3 separate regions of the Homo sapiens genome follow, and all the other regions are linked to region 1. Evidence: fine-mapped expression QTL. A gene starts in region 1. Each other region holds a variant in brackets. All regions are shown on one strand. Distances are between the middles of the regions. Region 1 holds the start of RGMB (repulsive guidance molecule BMP co-receptor b). Region 2 has its middle 230 kb from the start of RGMB-AS1. Region 3 has its middle 280 kb from the start of RGMB-AS1.

Region 1 (7,737 bases):
GGAGAGGAGGGTCTCTGTTCACCTCTATTTGAGGCTGACTGGGGAGAAAGCTGCCTGGAGGAAGCTGCTGGGGTGCGGGGGGCTGAGGGATTTGGCTCCCCGCCCTCTCCCCTAGATGGCGGAGAAATCGGGCTAGCTGGAAGGGCGCAGCTCCTCTCCCAGAGCTCATTCTGGAGTCGGAGAACTGGGAGAGCGGCCCCCGAGGCGGAGCCTCCCTCCCGCCCCGAGTCGCGCTGCCCCCCACCTGGGGGAGAGGGGCGGGCGCCGCGCTGCCTTCCCTCCGCGCCTCGGCCGCGTGGCTTGCGGCTTATTTTCCCAGCTGGCAAGCGTCGCGCTGCAGACAAGGGAATGCCTGTGGTGAGTTGTTTATTTTGTTGAAGTTTGCGGTGGGCCCGGGGGACGTGGGGGGCGAGCGGCAGGCAGCGGCCGGGACTGTTTTGTTTAGGTCTCCATCCACCTGTGGGGTATAAATCTGCCAGCCTCAAGGCGGCGGGGGACCGGAGTGAGAAAGCTCTGACGCTCCCAAAAGCCCCTTTTCGCAACTTACAGATCTAGGACCACATTTGATTCTCCACGCCTGGAACCGGCTAGATCCTAGTTTACGCTCACCCCGCCCTCCAGCCTCCCATCAACGCTTCCCGCACCCGCTGTGTGCAGGGCTGGCGCTCCGCAGAGCAAACAGCGCCCACGACCCAGGGACAGCTGGCCACCGAAGTCCCTCCCCGGCGCCCTTCCCCGTTCCTTGAGGATAGGGGAGCTGAGGTTTTCATGTGAAGGGCGCCCATGAAATTCGTGGGAACTTGTTCTGGCGTCTTCTGGAGTGGAGTTCTTTCAGGGGTTTCGGGTCTGCCCGGGACTACAAAATGGGATCCTGGGTTGGCTGGAGTTTCCCAGACTAGGCTGGAGAGAGGTCGGCTGTTGGCTCGCGGGAGAGCCCAGAGGAACCCCTTGGGCGATGGCAGTCAAGACCGGCGGCTGCGTTTGCCTGGAAGAAAAGCCTAAATACATTAGCGAGCTGGTAAAGCTTTTAAGGCCTTCTTGGGAGCGAGTGGCTGGCTAATGAGAGGTTAATTTTGTTTCGAAGGGAAGGCTGCACTGGTTTCCTGAGATAAATGGACAGGAAGCGCATTACCTCCGCGCGCTGGCAAGCGGCTCCCAAATGCTTTTTGCACCTGCCGTTTTGAGCGGTGAGAGCAGCGGCGGAGCCCGCAGGGATTGCGGGGGCCCGTTGTCTACGAGCGGGTGATGAGCCCCCCGCAAGCCCCGGGCTCTCTCCCTCCGCGAGTGCATTGCTCACGCCAAGCTTTGGGACTCTTCTCTCACACCCAGGTCCTGCGTGTTCCGAAGTTCAGGGGCCCCCTGATCCCGCTGAGCCCCCTCCAGGAGCGAAAGGGTTAAGAATGATGTAAGTACAGGCACTTGATTTCTCAAGTCGCCCGCTTGGCCCTCTTCCAAGTTGTACTTTCCTTATTTTCTCTCCTTTCCTTTCCTTACTGTTCTAACGCTTTTTAATAAACTTTCACTCTTGCTCTGAAAAAAAAAATGATGTAAGTACAAACCACGAGCTGCTTGACGCTGAGCTGTTGGACTCCGGGCTATTTCAGCCGCTGCTTTGGGTACACAGTGGCCGGGGAGCAGCCGGGGAGCCCTTACTCTAGAAAGGATTGCACAAATCGCAAGCTTAGGTGATCTGTTAAGCAGTCAGAGATTCTCCTGTTAGATTTCTGGAAATGGAGACATATTAACTGGAGAACAGTTAAAAACATCACGTATAGGCTCAGGAAATGAAACTGCATCTTGTTTAGAATCCATTAGTGTTTCTGGCATGTGTTTTAATTCTGTCCACTTGCACGTTCATGCCGTAGTATGCTTTGCTGGATTCTCCGGATGTACTGTTCAGGTCTCCTCCTTCCTTTCTGAAAACAAAGAGAAAGGGAGAAAGAGTACCAGTGGCAAGAAACAGGGTGGATGTGTGAATTACACAAGTCATCAGCCACTTCATGATTTTTTTTCTGATTAAAACATAAAACTTTTATAAGTCACCGATTTTTTTGTTTGTGTTCTAGCTCCCTCCCCGATTTTTCTTTGTACAATATAAAGTCGTTTGTAACTTGCAGCTCACGGGCTTGAGGAGTGGCTGCGGTATAAGCGACTATTCACTACGCTCTTGCTTTCCAAGCCAATTCCTGATCTTGTGAACAGTACGAATTTACCCGCGAGTGTGTCAACTGACCTATGTCTTGAAAATAGGAACCACCTTGCGGTTTACTTGTGAAAATTAGCATTTTCCTCTAGCGGCTGAACACTTATGCAGCAATAAAAAGTGAATTGTTAGGCTTATAAATCTCGAGCTTGTCAAATTTTACAACAGAGGAGCAATAAAGCACCTTATAGAGATGAAGTTTTTCCTCTGAAGAACAGTTCCGTTTAACGACACCAGGATTTGCAATGACTCGAGGACGCCCTCTATTGATAGGAAAATCTAGAGCACCCGTGTACTTATGGAACAGGATATAGGGGGAGGGGAGTAAAAAATCATAGAAAGTCACGAGTGGAAAGACCCAAACCAAACAGAAATTATTGATCCTTAACTATTGAGTATATGCTTTGAAGTATGATCAATAAAGTGAGATGCTGCTTTTATAGGGGTCGAATTAAATCTTGGGTTAAGAGAAAAAAATGTAGTCTTTGTTAGCCAAATACTTTGAAAATCAGTATTATGTTTGATTACTTTTTTAAGATGCTTCTTAGTATGTCATGAACTGTATCTAATTATATGAAGTAATTGCAAGATAGTAAATTTTTGCTCTAATAATACTTAGTCCGCAGCATTATCTAAAAATGTCATATAACTTCCTCCCCAAAAGTCATTTCTCCAGGCAACTGTGAAGCTATTATTAAGCGTATTATGGATATACACAGGCTTGGATTATATTGTGGATAGTGAAAGGTGTGTTTACCCCTTAAGTCATCATAGTATGTAACAAGTAAGTAATGAAAAGTTACAGTAAAAACAGATAGGCATCCTTCATTAGGGACCTAGTGGTTTGGGCAATTCAAAATGTGTCTAATAAGTGAGCTGGTGAGACTGAAGGTTTGCCCCTCAATTATCCTAGTCCATTGATTAGCTCATTTAAACATGTGTGGAATATCAGCATGTCCGTGGTTGATAAGAAATTCCTAATTAGAGATTCTGAGTAACATAGCGGGTACAGTTGCCAACTACGATTTGGATGTTAGTGGATTTTAAATGGCAACCCTGTGCTGTTTGGGGAAAGGCAAAGGCGAGGGCGGTATCAAGTGTCTCTCAGCCTTGAGGTCATTCTTGAGATTAGATACCACTTCACACCTACCGATAACAAATTGGAATCTATCATCAGTCTCATAACTGCTTTTCTGTCTCCACTTGGCAGCCTCTTTCTTTGTAGACAATTGTCTTTTTCCTCACTTTCGGACCCATCCGATCATAAAAGGAGAAAGTGAGCTGCCATTGAATTAATCCGTAGAAATTTGTGGAAAATTTAAATAATCTGTAGAAATTTGTGAAAAAGCCACTGAGCAACAACAAATCGTGGCATAATTACACTGCATAAAAACCCACCACTCTCATTAATTACACTGTAACCGAACGTTGAAGTTTGCCCACTCTTAGACCTCTCCTTGCCGCTTTCAGGAAGGGAAATGTCAAACTAGAACACCTGAGCCTCGCACAGCTGCCAGCGAATTCCGGCGGCAGTTCGCGGGTACCTTCCCAGCCCATCCTATCTGCTCCGGACCGCGGGTGACATTCAGATTTCCAACACCGCCCCGAGCTTGCTTTACCAGACACCCTCAAACGACTCGGAACGCGGTTCCGCAGATGTGATTGGCTGAAAGGGGACCTGCCGCGCGGCGCTCTGTAAAAGCGCCTGCTTCCTCCAAGGAGGTGGAGCTGAAGCTGGCAGGGCCAGGGCAGGGAGGGGTAATTAAATTAAAAAAAAAACTTGGAGGGAAGATGAATCGGATCACATTAATTCAAGGAGAGGTCAAAGGCCGGTACCTTTGTAACGCCGGCGAGAGTAAGACTTGCGGTCGCCCATTTCTGTTGGGCGCGAGGAAACAGTAAATCGCGGAAGGGGGTAGAGGGGGAAGGAAAGGGAGCGCGAGGCAGCATGCGGCGCAGGAGAGAGGACTTGGAGTCGATGGACAGGGAACTCGAATTACACTGAGCGGGCGGGGGAGAGGGCCCTCTGGGTCCTGCGATTGGCAGGCTGAGTCGGGCTGACGTGCGGTCACAACCAATGGGGAGGAAGGGAGGGACACGGCGGGGGATTATGGCGTCGTGGATTGGCGGGCACAGGGCGGGGCGGGACGGCAGTGCGGGACTGAGATTGATCGACCGCGGGGGCTGCCGCGCAGAGATATCCGGGCCGCCGGTGGGTGGTCGCTAGGGCTGGGCCAGCCTCTTGGAGGTCCACGCCCGCCGAGCCCACGCTGGCTGGGGCCGGGGTGCCGGCGCGCTCGGGACTCGTCTCAGCAGTCGCTCACGGTCTTTGTGTCTTCTCTTCCGCCCCTTTCCCTGCCTGCCGCCTCCGGCCGCCACGATGCCCCTGCGCCCCGCTGCTGCCGCCGCGGACTGGCTGCGCCGGCTGCGCGCTGCTTGCTGCGGCGGTGGTGGCGCCCCATCTGCTACACGGGCCTGAAGAAGGAAGAAGAGGAAGCGAAGCGCGCCCCCCGGCCCATGCCGCAGCCACGGGCCCAGACCCGCCACGGCGCCCGCGCCGCCGCCCTCGCCGGAGCCCACGAGACCTGCATGGACGGGCATGGGCTTGAGAGCAGCACCTTCCAGCGCCGCCGCTGCCGCCGCCGAGGTTGAGCAGCGCCGCAGCCCCGGGCTCTGCCCCCCGCCGCTGGAGCTGCTGCTGCTGCTGCTGTTCAGCCTCGGGCTGCTCCACGCAGGTAGGACGGGAGCGCGCGAGGGGAGCCAGCCCCGGGGCCTAGGGCTTTGTTCCCAAATAGCCCCAGGTCTCGAAGGCGCTCGCCGGGGCGGAAGGGCGGCGTGGCGCAACGGGAAAGGCCTCCCGAGCCCCTGACACGCACCTCTGTCGGGCTCCGGGCCACAGTAACGCAGCCACCCACCGGGCGGCCGCCGGGCGCAGAGACGAGCCTTCTCTCCACCCTCCCCGCCTTCGGCTCGGACCGCTGACAAATCTCCCCTCCGACAGCCGCTTATCAAACATTTAGCGGGCGGGGGCCGCGCGCCCGAGACAAATGTTCCGGATGCTTTATTGCTCTCTGCGCTGGTGTTTACTGAAAGTCAGGCTCGGATCAGGTTTCCGCCGTCGCAGCCGCCTCGGAGGGAGACAAGGAGCCTTGTGCTGCTTTTCTGGAGTTGGGGGTGGCGGCGAGGCGAAGGAAGTACACCAGATGGAAAGATTTTTACCAGATTTTGCAAACCTGGGAGTTAATCTCGAAGTAACGTCAACTTTTTTGAGCAGGGATTTCTTTCGTTTTGGCAAAAGCTGCGTTTGTTCAGCGATCAGCCTCCCGGGAAAAGCTCGTGTTTTGTGACTAGCCGGGTGTCTTCGGGCTCCGTGAGGGGTTGACAGATAACCATGCTGCCTTCTGGAGGTCGGCGCTTCCCCAGCCTTGAGGCGTATGTTCCAAGGGAAGTAAGCCTGCAAATGAGCCTTCTACCATGTGATACCTATTTTTCTTTTTAAAAAATCGTTTCATGAAAATCCAGGACGCTCTTCACACTATTTTTTTCTAGGAATTTGCCTAGACAAAGAATTTTTTTTAATGCTAAGGTTGAAAGGGTCATTTTCCTTTAGTCTTGAGAACAAACAGCATTAGATAAGTTTCTTTTCCTTCCAGACCTTTTTTGTCCTGTATATATGAGACACTTCACAACGTTCTGGTCTGGAGAATCCTGAACTTCGATGCCACCCAACTGTGCGGAGTAATTTTTACTTATTAAACCATACCCGCCATGCTAAAAATCAGGGAGGTCTTTTAAGTAATGGGGGGGAAAATGTGACATCTGAGGAGACTTAATTTACTTTGCGTAGCTTTGCATTATGATGTAATAGCTGCTTTTTAACACCGACAATTAGGGAAAAGACGGCTTAATAAAAAAGTGTAATAGAAAGTTTTAGGATGATTACGGCTTTCAATTAGTAACCTAAGAACCTTAGAAAATAGTGTCAATCTGCATGTAGTTACGTGGAAAATTTTTCTTGACATGTTAAAAGATATATTCAGGAGTGTTTGTGCGAAAAATATGTGTCCATAATACCAAAATGTAAGTTTCATGAAATGGAAATTGTGCTAGGTGGGATTGTGTCCCCCTTGGCTGCTTGGATATTGTTTCCCATAGTTGCCATAGGATCCTGTGACAGAATTGGAATGTGGTCCCTGAAGGTTTCTTTGCTAGCCCGTGAAAGGCATACTAAGTTGGCTTAAAGGTTTAGAAAAGTAGGGTGTCTTCGTTCAAGAATTTGGAATGTGAAGCTCCCAGTATCTTCATGTGTCCTCATTTAAGTCACCATTAGATTCAGCCCAACAATGTGGTAAGCGATTTCTATGGACAACTTGTTGGAGTGAAGCGATTAATCCTGTTAAAGAAAAGAACGCTCCTTTTGAGAGATTTCTTTGAAGAGTGGTGCTATTTAAATGCCCGGGTTGTTTCTCAGATAAGGGAACCCAGCAAGAGTGCCAGTGCTCTTTGCAGATGGACTACTATATGTTTTATGCCTGGATCCTTATCATCTGCCTCAGCACCCCATATGGCTCCACATTTCACTTAATTCAGCTTCAGAATACCTCATTTCTTTTATTATAAACTGGTGATTGTGCTGCAGATTCACACGTGTAGTCCTGGTGTTAAAGAAACTGTCTTGAATGGTGAGGTCTTTATGTCTGATTCATTCAAAAATGATGAAATGAAAGCTCTAGACCCACAAATGCTTTAGCATGTTCAGTAACTGGTGTGAAAATACTGTCACACTGATCACAGATAATCTGACCCAAAAATAGAGAAATCTGTAGCTGCAGAGTTTTAATTCTGCCCTTGGGGAATGAAAAGAGTATGAAAAGAGTACCTTTAGTTGCTTTATTTTATTTTATTTTTTTTAAGCAAACCTCTGCAATTCCTGAATAGAGATCCAATATGGGAGTTACTTGCTTACTCATACACTTCATGGCCTTCTTGGCTACATCCTTGAGATTGTTTCTGCTCCGCATTGTCTTGGCATTTTGACAGGAGGCTTACTTTACCGCCTATAACAGGCAAAGTGTGCGTTGTCGTTATAAATTCATGAAGCCTGGATATTTCTGGGTGTATGCTACAAATTAGTCATTATATAGAAGCCCACAAGGCAGCTGAAAATGCTGACCCAATCGCACTTTCTATTTAGCCCTCTTCGCTCCCATCATCTCTGTAGCAGAAGGCTGTTGGAAGCCTTAGCCAAAGCAAAAGAACCCCGGGAGATCTGTTTGATTTGAGATTTGTTTAAGCAGTCAGCACCTACCTGCTATGAAAGAGGGAAAGGTTTAGGCCGGGCGCTGTGGCTCACGCCTGTAATCCCAGCACTTTGGGAGACTGAGGCGGGCAGATCACCTGAGGTTGGGAGTTCAAGACCTGCCTGACCAACATGGAGAAACCCTGTCTCTACTAAAAATACAAAATTAGCCGGGTGTGGTGGCGCGTGCCTGTAATCCCAGCTACTAGGGAGGCTGAGGTAGGAGAATCGCTTG
Region 2 (7,737 bases), 230 kb before region 1:
GTTATTACAGCTACATTAAGTGATACAGCTCACTATTTGGCATCACCAAGTAAATGTGGATGTAATTATTACAGTCTAAGAAGCCCTGCTTAGGAATATATTAGTCAGACAAATCTCACATGATCTCACTCATATGTGGAAACTAAAATGTCAATCTTGTGGGGCAGTGGCTCTCATTTGTGATCTCAGCTGTGTTCCTGAGGCCAGGAGTTCAAGACCAGCCTCGGTAACATAGCAAGACCCCTGGCTTTTGGTAGAGCAGCTGTGCTCTGTTGGGGATCCTTTTAGCCCCTGATCAGTTTGGGCTCGCCAAGGCCCACAGGCCAGACTGACTGAGATGCTGGAACAGCAAAGGTCAACAATACCTTATTAAGCATATGCTCTTTTTTAACCTTCTAATTTATAAGAACGTTTTAAATTAAAAAATTAATTATTTTAATGGGCAAGTAATTGTATGTATTCATGCGGAACTGTTAAAAGAAAAACAGAAAACAACAAAAACAAAAAACTCACAAAAACCCCATCCAAAGGTCAGCACCCTCAAAGATTGAAGGCAGATAAGCCCACAAAGATGAGGAAAAAAAATCAACAGAAAAACACTGAAAACTCAAAAAGCCAGAGTTCCCCTTTTCCACCAAATGACTGCAACACTCCAGCAAGGGCTCAAGCCTGGGCCGAGGCTGAGATGGCTGAAATGAAAGAAGTAAGCTTCAGAATATGGATAAAAACAAACTTCACTCAGCTAAAGGAACATGTTGTCACCCAATGCAAAGGAGCTAAGAATCATGATAAAAGAAGTCAGGAGCTGACAGACAAAATAGTCATTTTAGAGAGGAACAAGGCCAACCTGATAGAGCTGAAAAACACACTACAAGAACTTCACAATGCAATCACAAGTATTAATAGCAGACTAGACAGGGTGGAGGAAAGAATCTCAGACCTGGAAGACTATTTTTCTGAAATAAGACAGGCAGGCAAGAATAGAGAAAAAAGAATGAAAAAGAATGAACAAAACCTCTGAGAAATATGGGATTATGTAAAGACACCAAATTTATGACTGATTGGGGTACCTGAAAGAGACAGGAGAAGGAAACCAACTGGGAAAACATACTTCAGGATATCATCCAGGAGAGCTTCCCCAATCTAGCAAGACAGGCCAACATTCAAACTCAGGAAATCCAGAAAACTCCAGTAAGATACTGCATGAGAAAATTATCCCCAGGACACATAATCATCAGATTCTCCAAGGTCAAAATGAAAGAAAAAATGTTAAGGTCAGCCAGAGAGAAAGGCCATTGGACTAACATCAGACCTCTCAGCAGAAACCCTATAAGCCAGAAGAGATAGAGAGCCAATATTCAACATTCTTTAAGAAAAGAATTTCCAACCCAGTTTCATATCCAGCCAAACTAGGCTTTACAAGTGAAGGAAAAATAAGATTCCTTTCAGACAAGCAAATGCTGAGGGAATTCATCACGACCATGCCTGCCTTGCAAAAGCTCTTGAAGAAAGCACTAAATATGGAAAGGAAAAACTGTTACCAGCCACTGCAAAAACACACTAAAGAGCAAAGACTAATGACACTATGAAGGAAGTAAATCAACAAGCCTGCAAAATAACCAGCTAGCATCATGATGACAGGATCAAATTATCACATGACAATACTAACCTTTAATGTAAATGGGCTAAATGCCCCCAATTAAATGGCAAGCTGGATAAAGAACTAACACTCATTGATATGCTGTCTTCAAGACACCAATTTCACGTGCAAAGGCATACATAGACTCAAAATAAAGGGATGGAGGAAAATTTACCAAGCAAATTGAAAACAGAAAAAAGCAGGGGTTCTCATCCTACTTTCTGACAAAACAAACTTTAAACCAACAAAGATCAAAAAAGACAAAGAAGGGCATTACATAATGGTAAAGGGTTTGATTCAACAAGAAAAGCTAACTATCCCAAATATATATGCACTCAATACAAGAGCACCCAGATTTATAAAGCAAATTCTTAGAGATCTTCAAAGAGACTTAGACACCCACACAATGATAGTGAGAAATTTTAACACCACACTGACAATATTAGACAGTTCATCAAGAAAGAAAATTAACAAAGATATTCAGGACCTAAATCCAGCCCTTCATCAAGTGGACCTGATAGATATCTACAGAACTCTCTACCCAAAAACAACAGAATGTACATTCTTCTAATCATCACATGGCACCTACACTAAAATTGATAACATAATGGGAAGTAAAACACTCCTCAGGAAATGCAAAAGAACTGAAATAACAAACAGCCTCTCAGACCACAGCACAATCAAATTAGAACTTAAGATTAAGAAATTCACTCAAAAATATACAACTACATGGAAATTGAATAAAAAGAAATTCACAAGGAAAAAAAACAAACAACCCCATTAAAAAGTGGGCAAAAGACATGAACAGACACTTCTCAAAAGAAGACATACACAGAGCCAAAAGACATATAAAAAAAAGCTCAGCATCACTGATCATTAGAGAAATGCAAATTAAAACTACAATGAGATACCATCTAACAACAGTCAGAATGGCAATGAATAAAAAGTCAAAAAATAACAGATGTTGGTGATGTTGTGGAGAAAAATGAACACTTATACACTGTTGGTGGGTTGTAAATTAGTTCAACCCTTGTGCAAGACAGTTTGGTGATTCCTTAAAGACCTAAAAACAGAAATACCATTTGGCCCAGGAATTCCATTACTGGATATATACCCAAAGGAATATAAATTCTTATATTATAAAGATACATGCATGTGTATGTTCATTGCAGCACTGTTTACTATAAAAAAGACATGGAATCAACCTAAATGCCCATCGATGTTAGACTGGGTAAAGAAAATGTGGTACATATTCACATTGGTATACTATGCAAACATAAAAAGGAACAAGATAATGTCCTTTGCAGGGACATGGATAGAGCTGGAGGCCATTATCCTTAGCAAACTAATGCAGGAAAAGAAAACCAAATACTATGTGTTCTCACTCATAAATGGAAGAAGAAAGATGAGAACATATGGGCAAATGAGGGGAGAACAATACATCCTGGGGCCTGTCAGAGTGTAGGGTGTGGGAGGAGGGAGAGCATTAAGAAGAATAGCTAATGGATGCTGGGCTTAATTCCTGGGTAATGGGATGATCTGTGCAGCAAACCACCATAGTGCACGTTTACCTATGTAACAAATCTCTACATCCTTCACATGTATCCCTGAACTTAAAATAAAAGCTGGAAATGAAAAAAAAT[C/A]TATTTTAAAATGAGCAAAAGACCTGAATAGATATTTCTGAAAAGAAGACACAAAAATACGTTAGGAAATCAAACAACGCAAAAGTCAGAAAAGAAATAAACTAATTTTAGAAAAGGCAAAAGACTTGAATAGACATTTATCAAAAGAAGACATCCTAATGGCCAGAAGGTATATGAAAAACTGCTCAACACCACTAATTATCAGAGAAACGAAAATGAAAACCACAAAAGGATATCACCTCAAACCTGTTAGAACGGTTATTATCAAAAAGACAAAACATGTTAAGTATTGTTGAGGATGTGGAGAAGAGGTAATGCTTTTACTTTGTTGGTGGTAAGGTAAATTTGTATAGCCATTATGAAAAGTGGTTGGGAGGTTTCTCAAAAACTTAAAAATAGAACTACCCATGATCCAGCAATTCCACTTCTGGGTATATGCCCAAAAGAAACAAAATCAGTATCTTGAAGAGACATCTGCACTCCCATGTTTATTACAGCATTGTTGACAATAACCAAGATATAGATTTATCCTAAATGTCTATCAACAAATCAATGGATTTAAAAAAAATGTGGTATATGAATGCAATGACATATCATTCAGCCTTAAAAAAAGGAATAATCCTGTCATTTTTTCAAACATGGATTAATTTGGATAACATTATGCTAGGTGAAATAAGCCAGACACAAAAGACAAGTGCTGCATAATCTCTCTTATGTATGGAATCTAAAAACCTAGAACTATGACACAGAGTAGAATGGTAGTTGAGTATATTTAACAATACTGTACTGATGGTGAATACAGTTAATAATACTATATTGTATACTTGAAATTTTCTGAGAGTCAATCTTAAAGGTTCTCACCACACACACGTACACAAATGGTAATTATGTGAAGTCATAGACATGTAAATTAGCTTGAATGTGGCAATCATTTCACAATGTATGTATATCAAAATATTATGTTATATACATTAAGTACATATAATTTTTGTCAATTATATGTCAATAAAGCTAGAAAAAAACTAACCAAAAAGGATATATTGTTAATCTCAAGTAAAAGTTAATTTTTTACAGATTACTCATTTTATTGATACATAATAATTCTACATATTTGTGGGGATCATGTGATATTTTGCTACATGCATAAACTGATGAAATAAGGGTAACTGAAATAGCCATCACCTCAAACAATTATTATTTGTTTGTGCTTGGATTATTCCAGAGCTTCTTTTCCAACTATTTTGAAATATACAACTGTAGTCACCCTACTGTGCGATCAAACATTAGAACTTACTCTTTCTATCTAACTGTATGTTTGTACCCATTAACCAACTTCTCTTCATACCCCCCCAGCCTACCCCCCACACACTTTTCCCAGCCTCTGGTAGCCAGCATTTTACCCTCCACCTCCATGAAATTACCTACTTTAGCTCCCACATAGGTGTGAGAATGTGCAATATTAGTCTTTCTGTGCCTGGCTTATTTCACTTAACATAATGACCTCTAGTTCCTTCCATGTCACTGCAAATAACAGGACAGTAAAAGTCAATTGTGAGATATTTGCTGGAAGTATGACAACAGTATTCTACTTTATGGTCAGTTTTATGTAATCAACAAGTCTTAAATTCGATATAGTAACATTGTTTCTCTCATCAGTTGTTTAGATCTCCTTTGTATAAGTTTAAGGAAATACATTTTTAAATGTTTTGTGATAGAAACAAAAAGAGTTTTTCACATTTGTGTCTCAGTGAAAATCATGCTAATTCAGTATATACACTTGCATCTGTTCTATTTGACAATGAAGGTATATTTCAGAGGTTATCCGTACAAAAAAAGAAGAAAAAAAACCCGAATAACTGCTTTTGAGGGAGGATCCAGAATTATATGCCTCTATTTAGGGAAGCAATTGAAACAATTATTTCTTTAATCTGAGGACTAACGTCTACTGGCTGTGGCATTTTTAGCTCCTTTCCTTCAAACCTAACCAAAAACATTGATGATATTTAAATATAAGAATGCATACAATGACACTACATTAACAGCCTTGATGTTGATTGTGCTTTTTTTAAAGCAAACTTTTAATTGAAGTAAAACACACGTTTTTAAGATGCACAAATTATAAATGTATAGACGAAATTTTTACAAAAGAAGCACATCCTGCACCTAAATCAAGAGAGATAATGTTACTAGTACACCAGTAGCCACCACATAACTTCTTCCAGTCACCCCCACTACCCTCTTTCCAGGAAAGAATCATTCTGAATTCTAACGTCAGAGGTTAGTTGAGCCTGTTTATGAAGTTTTATCTTTATATAAATGGAATAACAAGGTGTACTTTTGTATGTGTCTGCCTTCTTTCATCATAATGCTTGTGAGATTTATCAGCATTCTTTCATGGAATTATAATTTGTTGTAAAATGTTGCACCTTCGTTATTACTTACCTTAAAATATCTCCTACTTTCCACCATTTCTTTTTTGAGTTCTTGTTTATTTATTAGTATGTGGCTTAAATTTCAAGCAGTTTGGGATTTTCTAGTTTATTTTTTTGTACTGATATCTAGGTTATTTCCACCAAAATAAAATTACATATTTCTAATTCTTTCAGTATTTTGAAATTTGTTGATATTTGCTTTGACTCACCATATGGTCAAGTGGTCAACTTTTTGGTTTTTTTGAGACAGAGTCTCACTCTGTCCCCCAAGCTGGAGTGCAAGCTCCACCTCCCGGGTTCACACCATTCTCCTGCCTCAGACTCTTTTGTAAATGTAATATTTTTGTTTGAAAAGGAATTTTCTTCTGTTCTTATTGATACAGTTTTCTATGTATGTCAAAAAAGTCAATTTTGCTCATTGGTTTTTCAGGTTTTTTATAACTTTATTGATTTTATTTTTGCTTGTCTTAAGTATTTAGAGAGTTGCTTTAGTCTCTTAATATAATTGTGGATTTTTCTGTTTTTCCCTTTATTTCTATCAGTGTGTGCTATGATGTTGACCATATAGAGATTTAGAGCCTTATGCTTTTCAACTTATTTGGTCCTTTTGCCAATAGTAAATGTCCCATTTCATCTGTAAAAATGCATTTCTATTAATGTTTATCTTATATTAATAAAGCTACTCCATTGTTGTCAATGACTGCAAAGTACATGTATTTCCTTTATTTTATTTTTAAGTTAATCTGTCCCTTATATTTATGGTTTTTCAAATATAAGAAGCATATAGTCAGAGGAGGAGCCAAGATGGCCGAATAGGAACAGCTCCGGTCTACAGCTCCCAGCATGAGCGACGCAGAAGATGGGTGATTTCTGCATTTCCATCTGAGGTACTGGGTTCATCTCACTAGGGAGTGCCAGACAGTGGGCGCAGGTCAGTGGGTGCGTGCACCGTGCACGAGCCGAAGCAGGGTGAGGCATTGCCTCACTCGGGAAGCGCAAGGGGTCAGGGAGTTCCCTTTCCTAGTCAAAGAAAGGGGTGACGGACGGTACCTGGAAAATCGGGTCACTCCCACCCAAATACTGCGCTTTTCCGATGGACTTAAAAAACGGCGCACCACGAGATTATATCCTGCACCGGGCTCGGAGGGTCCTACGCCCACGGAGTCTCACTGATTGCTAGCACAGCAGTCTGAGATCAAACTGCAAGGCTGCAGCGAGGCTGGGGGAGGGGCGCCCGCCATTGCCCAAGCTTGCATAGGTAAACAAAGCAGCCAGGAAGCTCGAACTGGGTGGAGCCCAACACAGCTCAAGGAGGCCTGCCTGCCTCTGTAGGCTCCACCTCTGGGGGCAGGGCACAGACAAACAAAAAGACAGCAGTAACCTCTGCAGACTTAAATGTCCCTGTCTGACAGTTTTGAAGAGAGCAGTGGTTCTCCCAGTACACAGCTGGAGATCTGAGAATGGGCAGACTGCCTCCTCAACTGGGTCCCTGACCCCTGACCCCTAACCCCCGAGCAGCCTAACTGGGAGGCACCCTGCAGCAGGGGCACACTGACACCTCACACGGCAGGGTACTCCAACAGACCTGCAGCTGAGGGTCCTGTCTGTTAGAAGGAAAATTAACAAACAGAAAGGACATCCACACCAAAAACCCATCTGTACATCACCATCATCAAAGACCAAAAGTAGACAAAACCACAAAGATGGGGAAAAAACAGAACAGAAAAACTGGAAACTCTAAAAAGCAGAGCACCTCTCCTCCTCCAAAAGAATGCAGTTCCTCACCAGCAACGGAACAAAGCTGGACGGAGAACGACTATGACGAGCTGAGAGAAGAAGGCTTCAGACAACCAAATTACTCTGAGCTACGGGAGGATAGTCAAACCAAAGGCAAAGAAATTGAAAACTTTGAAAAAAATTTAGAAGAATGTATAACTAGAATAACCAATACAGAGAAGTGCTTAAAGGAGCCGATGGAGCTGAAAACCAAGGCTCGAGAACTACGTGAAGAATGCAGAAGCCT
Region 3 (7,737 bases), 280 kb before region 1:
GTTTCTAATTGGTGAAGCTACAAGTGGTTCAGATATACTTTGTATGGAAGGAGAAGTGACCTGAAAGAAAGAGATATATGTGGGTGTGTGGTGGGTGTACATGTGTGTGCATGTGTATTTCTGGGTAGTAGTCAATGGCCCGGTCAGCTGATCAACAATAGCCTAGAAATAAAAGGACTGAAAGATCAGAGATGAGGAGATCTCTAGTAAGGCATGTGCATAAACATATGCGAGTGGGCTCAAATTATGAAACTTTTTGTATAACATGTTAACATCTACTAGAAAGCATCCATCATGGGAAAAGCACTGAAGAATCAAGTAGACAAAATGACGTAGCCAGTTGACTTTAGCCAGTCGACTTTAGCCAGTCTTACTTATCAGCCGCTAAGAAATGGCATGATGGGCATATGAACAAAGGCACTGAGGTGGCAGTATTGGAGTCTGCACAGGGATCTAACATGGACTCTCACCTGTCCAGGCCTATTTACCTACTGTCATGCTGAATGTCCAGCCTGCCATGAGTGCTGAGTCCCCATATAGCACTATTTCTGCAGGAGATTAGCCAGTTACTTGGTGGCAACTCGACTAAACTGGATCTCTTTCATCTTGGAAAAATTGACAGTTTGTCCTTACAGAGAAAATGTAAGATGCTCAACATCACTAATTATTAGAGAAAGGCAAATCAAAACCACAATGAGATGCCATCCCACACCTGTCCGAATGACTATTACTAAAAAGTCAAAAATTAACAGATGGTGTCAAAGTTGCAGAAAAAAAGGGAATGCTTATACATTTCATGTGGGAATGTAAATTAGTTTAGCTATTGTGGAAAGCACTTTGGCAATTTCTCAAAGGACTTAAAACAGAATTACCATTTGACCCAGCAATCCCATTACTGGTTATATACCCCAAAGAATTCTAATTATTCTACCATAAGGACACATGCACATGAATGTTCATCGTGGCATGATTCACAATACCAAAGACATGGAATCAACCTAAATGCCCATCAATGACAGACTGGATAAAGAAATTGTGGTACAGGAGAGGACCCACAGACACTCTGAAGGAAGCCAACTGCTCCTGCAGGACCTGGGAGACCCCCCAAAAAACTGCACAAGTATCCACGGCTGAGAGGCCCATAGATGGTTCACATTACAGGACTCTGTGCAGACAACCCCCAGTACCAGCCCAGAACTGTGTAGACTCACCAGCTGGCTAGACCCAGAAGAGAGACAACAGTCACTACAGTTTGACTCACAGGAAGCCACACCCACAGGAAAAGGTGCAGAGTACTACATTAAGGAAACACCACATGGGACAAAAGAATCTGAACAACAGCCTTCAGCCCTAGACCTTCCCTCTGACAGCCTACCCAAATGAGAAAGAACCAGAAAACCAAACCTGGTAGTATGGCAAAATGAGGCTCTTCAACACCCCAAAAAAATTACACTAGTTCACCAGCAATGGATCCAAACCAAGAAGTCCCTGACTTTTCTGAAAAAGAATTCAGGTTAGTTATTAAGCGAATCAGGGAGGAACCAAAGAAAGGCAAAGCCCAATGCAAAGAAATCCAAAAAATGATACAAGAAGTGAAGGGAAAAATATTTAATGAAAGAGGTAGCTCAAGGACAAAAAACCAAACACCGTATGTTCTCACTCACAGGTGGGAATTGAACAATGAGAGCACATGGACACAGGAAGGGGAACATCACACACAGGGGACTGTTGTGGGGTCGGGGGAAGGGGGGAGGGATAGCATTAGGAGATACACCTAATGCTAAATGACAAGTTAATGGGTGCCGCACACCAACATGGCACATGTATACATATGTAACAAACCTGCACATTGTGCACATGTACCCTAAAACTTAAAGTATAATAATAATAAAATTTAAAAAAAATCAAAAATTCAGGAAACTTTAGACATACTTTTACTTTAGACACACTTTTAGAAATGTGAAATGCTCTGGAAAGTCTCAGCAATAGAATTGAACAAGTAGAAGAAAGAAATTCAGACCAGAAAGACAAGGTCTTTGAATTAACCCAATCCAACAAAGACAAAGAAAAAAGAATAAGAAAGTATGAACAAAGATTCCAAGAAGTCTAGGATTATATTAAATGACCAAACCTAAGAATAATTGGTGTTCCTGAGGAGGGAGAGAATTCTAAAAGCTTGGAAAATATATTTGGGGGAATAATCAAGGAAAACTTCCCCAGCCTTGCTAGAGACCTAGACATCCAAATACTAGAAGCACAAAGAACACCTGGGAAATTAATTGCAAAAAGATCTTCACCTAGGCACATTGTCATCAGGTTATCCAAAATTAAGACAAAGGAAAGAATTTTAAGAGCTGTGAGACAGAAGCACCAGGTAACCTATAAAGAAAAACCTATCAGATTAACAGCAGATTTCTCAGCTGAAATCCTACAAGCTAGAAGAGATTGGGGCCCTATCTTTAGCCTCCTCAAACAAAACTATTTTCAGCCAAGAATTTTGTATCCAGCAAAACTAAGCATCATATATGAAGGAAACATACAGTCTTTTTCGAACAAATGCTGAGAGAATTCACCATTACCAAGCCACCACTACAGGAACTACTAAAAGGAGCTCTAAATCTTGAAACAAATCCTGGAAACACATAGAAACGGAACCTCTTTAAAGCATGAATCACACAGGACCTACAAAACAAAAATACAAGTTAAAAAGCAAAAACAAAAAACCAAATTACACCAGCAACAAAAAGCATGATGAATGCAGCAGTACCTCACATTTCATTACTAACATGGGAATGTAAATGGCCTAAATGCTCCATTTAAAAGATACAGAACCACAGAATAGGCAAGAACTCACCAACCATCTGCTGTCTTTAGGAGACTCACCTAACACATAAGGACTCACATAAACTTAAAGTAAAGGGGTGGAATAAGACATTTTATGCAAATGGACACCAAAAACAAGCAAGGGTAGCTATTCTTGTATCAGACAAAACAAACTTTAAAGCAATAGCAGTTGAAAGAGACAAAGAGGGACATTATATAGTGGTAAAAGGCCTTGTCCAACAGGAATATATCACAATCCTAAACATATATGCCTCTAACACTGGAGCTCCCAAATTTATAAACAATTACTAACAGACCTAAGAAACGAGATAGCAACACAATATTAGTTGGGGACTTCAGTACTCCATTGACAGCACTAGACAGGTCATCAAGACAGCAAGTCAGCAAAGAAACAATGGATTTAAACTATAACTTAGAACAAATGGACTTAACAGATATATACAGAACATTTCATCCAACAGCCACAGGATACACATTCTATTCAACGGTGCATGGAACTTTCTACAACAGAGACCATATGATAGGCCCTAAAATGAGCCTCAATGAATTTAAGAAAATTGAAACTATATCAAGCACTCTCTTAGACCACAGTGGAAGAAAACTGGAAATCTACTCCAAAAGGAACCTTCAAAATTATTCAAATTCATGGAAATTAAATAACATGCTCCTGAATGAGCAGTGAGTAAAAAATGAAATCAAGATGGAAATTAAAAAATTCTTTGAACTGAAAGACAATAATGACACAACCTATCAAAACCTCTGGGATACAGCAGAGGCAGTGCTAAGAGGAAAGTTCATAGCCCTTAATGCCTACATCAAAAAGACTGAAAGAGCACAAACTGACACGTGAACATCACACCTCAAGGAACTAGAGAAACAAGAACAAACCAAACCCAAACCCAGCAGAAGAAAGGAAATAACCAAGATCAGAGCAGAACTAAATGAAATTGAAACAAAAAA[G/C]ATGCAAAAGATAAATGAAAAAAAAATCTGGTTCTTTGAAAAGATAAATAAAACTGATAGACCATTAGCAAGATTAAGCAAGAAAAGAAGAGAGAAAATCCAAATAAACTCACTAAGAAACAAAACAGGAGATATTACAACTGACACCACTGAAATACAAAAGATTATTCAAGTTTACTATGAACACGTTTACACACATAAACTAGAAAACCTAGAAGAGATAGATAAATTCCTAAAAAAAATACAACCCTCCTAACTTAAATCAGGAAGAATTAGATAACCTGAACAGACCAAAAACAAGCAGTGAGACTGAGATGGCAATTTAAAAATTAACAACAACAAAAAAATCCAGGACCAGACAGATTCACAGCAGAATTCTGCCAGACATTCAAAGAAGAATTGGTACCAATCCTTTTGTACTATTCCACAAGATAAAAAAGGAACCCTCCCTAATTCATTCTATGAAGTCAGCGTCACCCTAATACCAAAACCAGGAAAGGACATAACCAAAAAAGAAAACTACAGACAGATATTTTTGATAAACATAAATGCTAAAATCCTTAATAAAATACTAGCTAACTGAATCCAACAACGTATCAAAAAGATAACCCAACATGATCAAGAGGGTTTCATATCAAGGATGCACGGATGGTTTAACATACACAAGTCAGTAAATGTGATACACCACATAAACAGAATTAAAAATCACATTATCATCTGTGTTAGTTTGCTGAGAATGATGGCTTCCAGCTTCATCTATGTCCCTGCGAAGGACATGATATCATTCTTTCTTATGGCTGCATAGTATTCCATGGTGTATATGAGCCACATTTTCTTTATCCAGTCTATCATTGATGGGCATTTGGGTTGTTTCCAAGACACTTGCACACACATGTTTATAGCAGCATTAATTCACAATTGAAAAATCATGGAACCAACACAAATGCCCATCAATCAACAAGTGGATAAAGAAACTGTGGTGTATATATATATTATATATACATAATATATATATATGAATACTACACAGTCATAAAAAGGAATTAACAGATAATAAAAAGAATTAACAGTCATAAAAAGAATTAACAGCATTTGCAATGACCTGGATGAGATTGGAGACTATTATTCTAAGTGAAGTAACTCAGGAATGGAAAATCAAACATCATATGTTCTCACTGATATGTGGGAGCTAAGCTATGAGGACGCAAAGGCATAAGAATGATAAAATGGACTTTGGGGACTTGGGGGGAAGAGTGGGAGGGGGATGAGGGATAAAAGACTACAAATATGGTGCAGTGTATACTGCTTGGGTTATGAATGCACCAAAATTACCACTAAAGAACTTACTTATGTAACCAAATACCACCTGTACCCTAATAACTTATGGAAAAAAAAATTTTTAATGTGGTACATATACACCATGGAATACTATGCAGCAGAAAAAAGTGAGGTCATGTCCTTTGCAACAACACAGTTGGAGCTAGCAGCCGTTACCTTAAGTGAACTAACACAGGAACAGAAAATCAAATACCACATTTCCTCACTTATGAGTGAGAGCTAAACATTGAGTATAAATGGACACAGAAAAGACAACAGCAGACACCAGGGCCTACTTGAGGGCAGAGGCGGGAGGAGGGAAAGGATCAAAAACTACCTATTGGACACTACACTTATTACCTGGGTGCACCAAACCCCTGTGACATTCAATTTACCTATATAACAAACCTGCACATGTACCCCTGAACCTAAAATAAACGTTAAAAAAAAAGAAAAGAAAATCCCTCTCTGGACATATGAATTTGTTTTTTCTGCCCACAGATCCTCGCTGTCCAGGCCTCGCTGACACAATGCCTGATCCACAAACATTGAATCCCCACAACATAGCAAGGGTAACTGAACCTGATCAGTAGGAGGAAGTAGTGCCGCTTTAACATAATGGGAGAAGAGGAGATTCTGCATGGAACCCAGATGGCCCATTTGTGAATTTCTTGATTCTCACTTGCCCCACTGTGTGTGAACACACACAGCAACCCTGCCACTAAATGCTGGTGACATATTTGCATTGGAAATGAACTTAAATAGTGAGTTGGTTTTACAAAGGCCACAAAAGAGACTTAGGTAATGACTATTGTTTGTTCTTAGTCTAAGTTTGAATCCATGATTCAAGTTGACATTTTGGAATATCTTGTAATGTCTTTGAAGAATATCAAACCTAACCAAGGGCTCCATGTATTTTGTTTTTTCCTTTTGCACAAGATAAACTTAATTTTGTAGTAGTTTTAGGTATTTGGGAATCATAAATCATTTACTTAAATCAGTTTCAATTTCATTACTTTTCCATAATCTGAATACATAATTGTTCCAGTTTATTTTTAATTTACAGGGAAACTCACAAGGACAAGTTTGGCACTTCTTCACTTGTTCTGAGTTGTTTATGTGGTTGGATTCAGTTATTAAGGCTTAGATCCAGTTTGTACTCACAGCTCTGGCCTGGGGCCTTCTTCTGTGTCTCTGCCTACTTCTGTGGAGGCATGAAGAGAGGCACTATGTCCATGTGATATGATGCAAAACCACTGAACTCATTTGAGGTGTCAAACTTAGAGGCTGATCCTTACTTTTTCCTTCCCAATGTGTAAAAATAAACATCCCAATCTCCGGCTTCTCTGATTGCATTAGTCACAAGTTGTCACATGATTCCTTTGTTCTTAAAACATTTTTAATGACTGAAAATAACAGTTTTCATCTCATCTTCAAAAGGTTATTTCTAACAATCCCAAATCTGAAGATATGGTTTTAAGTTTCTGAGTGGCAGGAAGTAAACTAAACTTTTTTTAAATGAAAGATATCAAAAGAAATAGTTAGGTCTTTGTCAGACTCTAGCCTTGTGGAAAAATTCTAGATGAAAATTCTGGGATAAATTTTGCAATTCTAACATTACTTTATTCTTTTTTGATCCATTAACTAGGAAGTTTTCCTTAATCATCTCTACTTTGCTAGACATAATGGAATAATACAAAATAAATAGGGCTCAATTTCTATTCAGGACTGTAAGATCTAATGGTACAGATAAAATTAATACACATGAACTCATACAGAACAATCGAGAGTGAGCAATGTGGTGCTGACTTTAAGTATAACAGGTGTTTGGGACAAAGTAGAGATTAGTGAAGATCAACGTAATAAAAGAAAGCTTTATGGAGGAAGTAGTGTTTGAACTGAGGCTTGAAGAATGTACAAAAGGTGGTTAGGAGCAATGGTTCTATAATGAAGCAGACATCAGCAGCTGTGTGGCTGGGGAGCTATGGGGCTCACAGAAGTAAGATAGCTTACCTTTCTAAGCCTTATTCATTTGTAAATGGTGTTAATTATAGTACCTACCTGATTGTTTTATTTTTTGTTTTGTTTTAGAAAATGGGATAACAAATGCAAAGGACTTAGTCATAAAAGTTAGCTTTTAATATTAGGCAGAGAGATGAAACATATTGAGGAAGGAAAGCAAGTAACTCAAAGAACAAAGATGGTTGATGCTTATATGCAGGCCAGAGTGTAGGGTGGTGTGTGGTAGGGTCTAATGGAAATAAGAATAGACGGATGAAGTAGCACCGTGCCAAAGAGGAGCTTAGAAGCTTAATATACATATTTATCAACTCATTCAAAAGATATTTAACATCTACTGTGTACAAGTCATTGTGGTAATAATGAGAATTCCATGTTGAAGACTAGTATCATTTCTACCCTCATGAAGCATCGCTCTTGCAGGGAATAGAAGCATTAAAAAATTATAAGTGGAAAAGGAGAAATACAAAAGTTTATATTATTATGAATTCCATAAATGTTTATGATGTTGAAAAAGAAAGCTTTTCTTACCATAAAAATCACTACTAACCTATGTGAGATAAGACATATGATTAGATATGACACACAACTCTCTAA

Evidence for each region. PIP is the estimated chance that this variant, and not a neighbour inherited with it, causes the effect.
Region 2: its variant is the best candidate, but not a certain one, in a credible set for the expression of RGMB in whole blood (TOPMed, PIP 0.66).
Region 3: its variant is the best candidate, but not a certain one, in a credible set for the expression of RGMB in blood mononuclear cells (TOPMed, PIP 0.58).

The regions. Positions count from the first base shown.
Region 1 is chr5:98,769,269-98,777,005 of GRCh38, forward strand. It overlaps RGMB (repulsive guidance molecule BMP co-receptor b), which reads left to right and starts at 4,395. Exons shown (of 3, transcript NM_001366508.1): 1 at 4,395-4,938. The coding sequence starts at 4,803. RGMB-AS1 (RGMB antisense RNA 1) reads right to left here and starts at 3,816. Exons shown (of 2, transcript NR_033932.1): 1 at 3,354-3,816; 2 at 350-1,916. RefSeq lists enhancers at 1,093-1,593, 3,972-4,021, 4,757-5,256, 5,512-5,631 and a silencer at 4,242-4,871.
Region 2 is chr5:98,540,162-98,547,898 of GRCh38, forward strand. No RefSeq gene overlaps it. Among named protein-coding and RNA genes, the nearest start is that of RGMB-AS1, 230 kb to the right of the region's middle. The variant C/A (reference allele first, on the strand shown) is at 3,283.
Region 3 is chr5:98,491,203-98,498,939 of GRCh38, forward strand. No RefSeq gene overlaps it. Among named protein-coding and RNA genes, the nearest start is that of RGMB-AS1, 280 kb to the right of the region's middle. The variant G/C (reference allele first, on the strand shown) is at 3,805.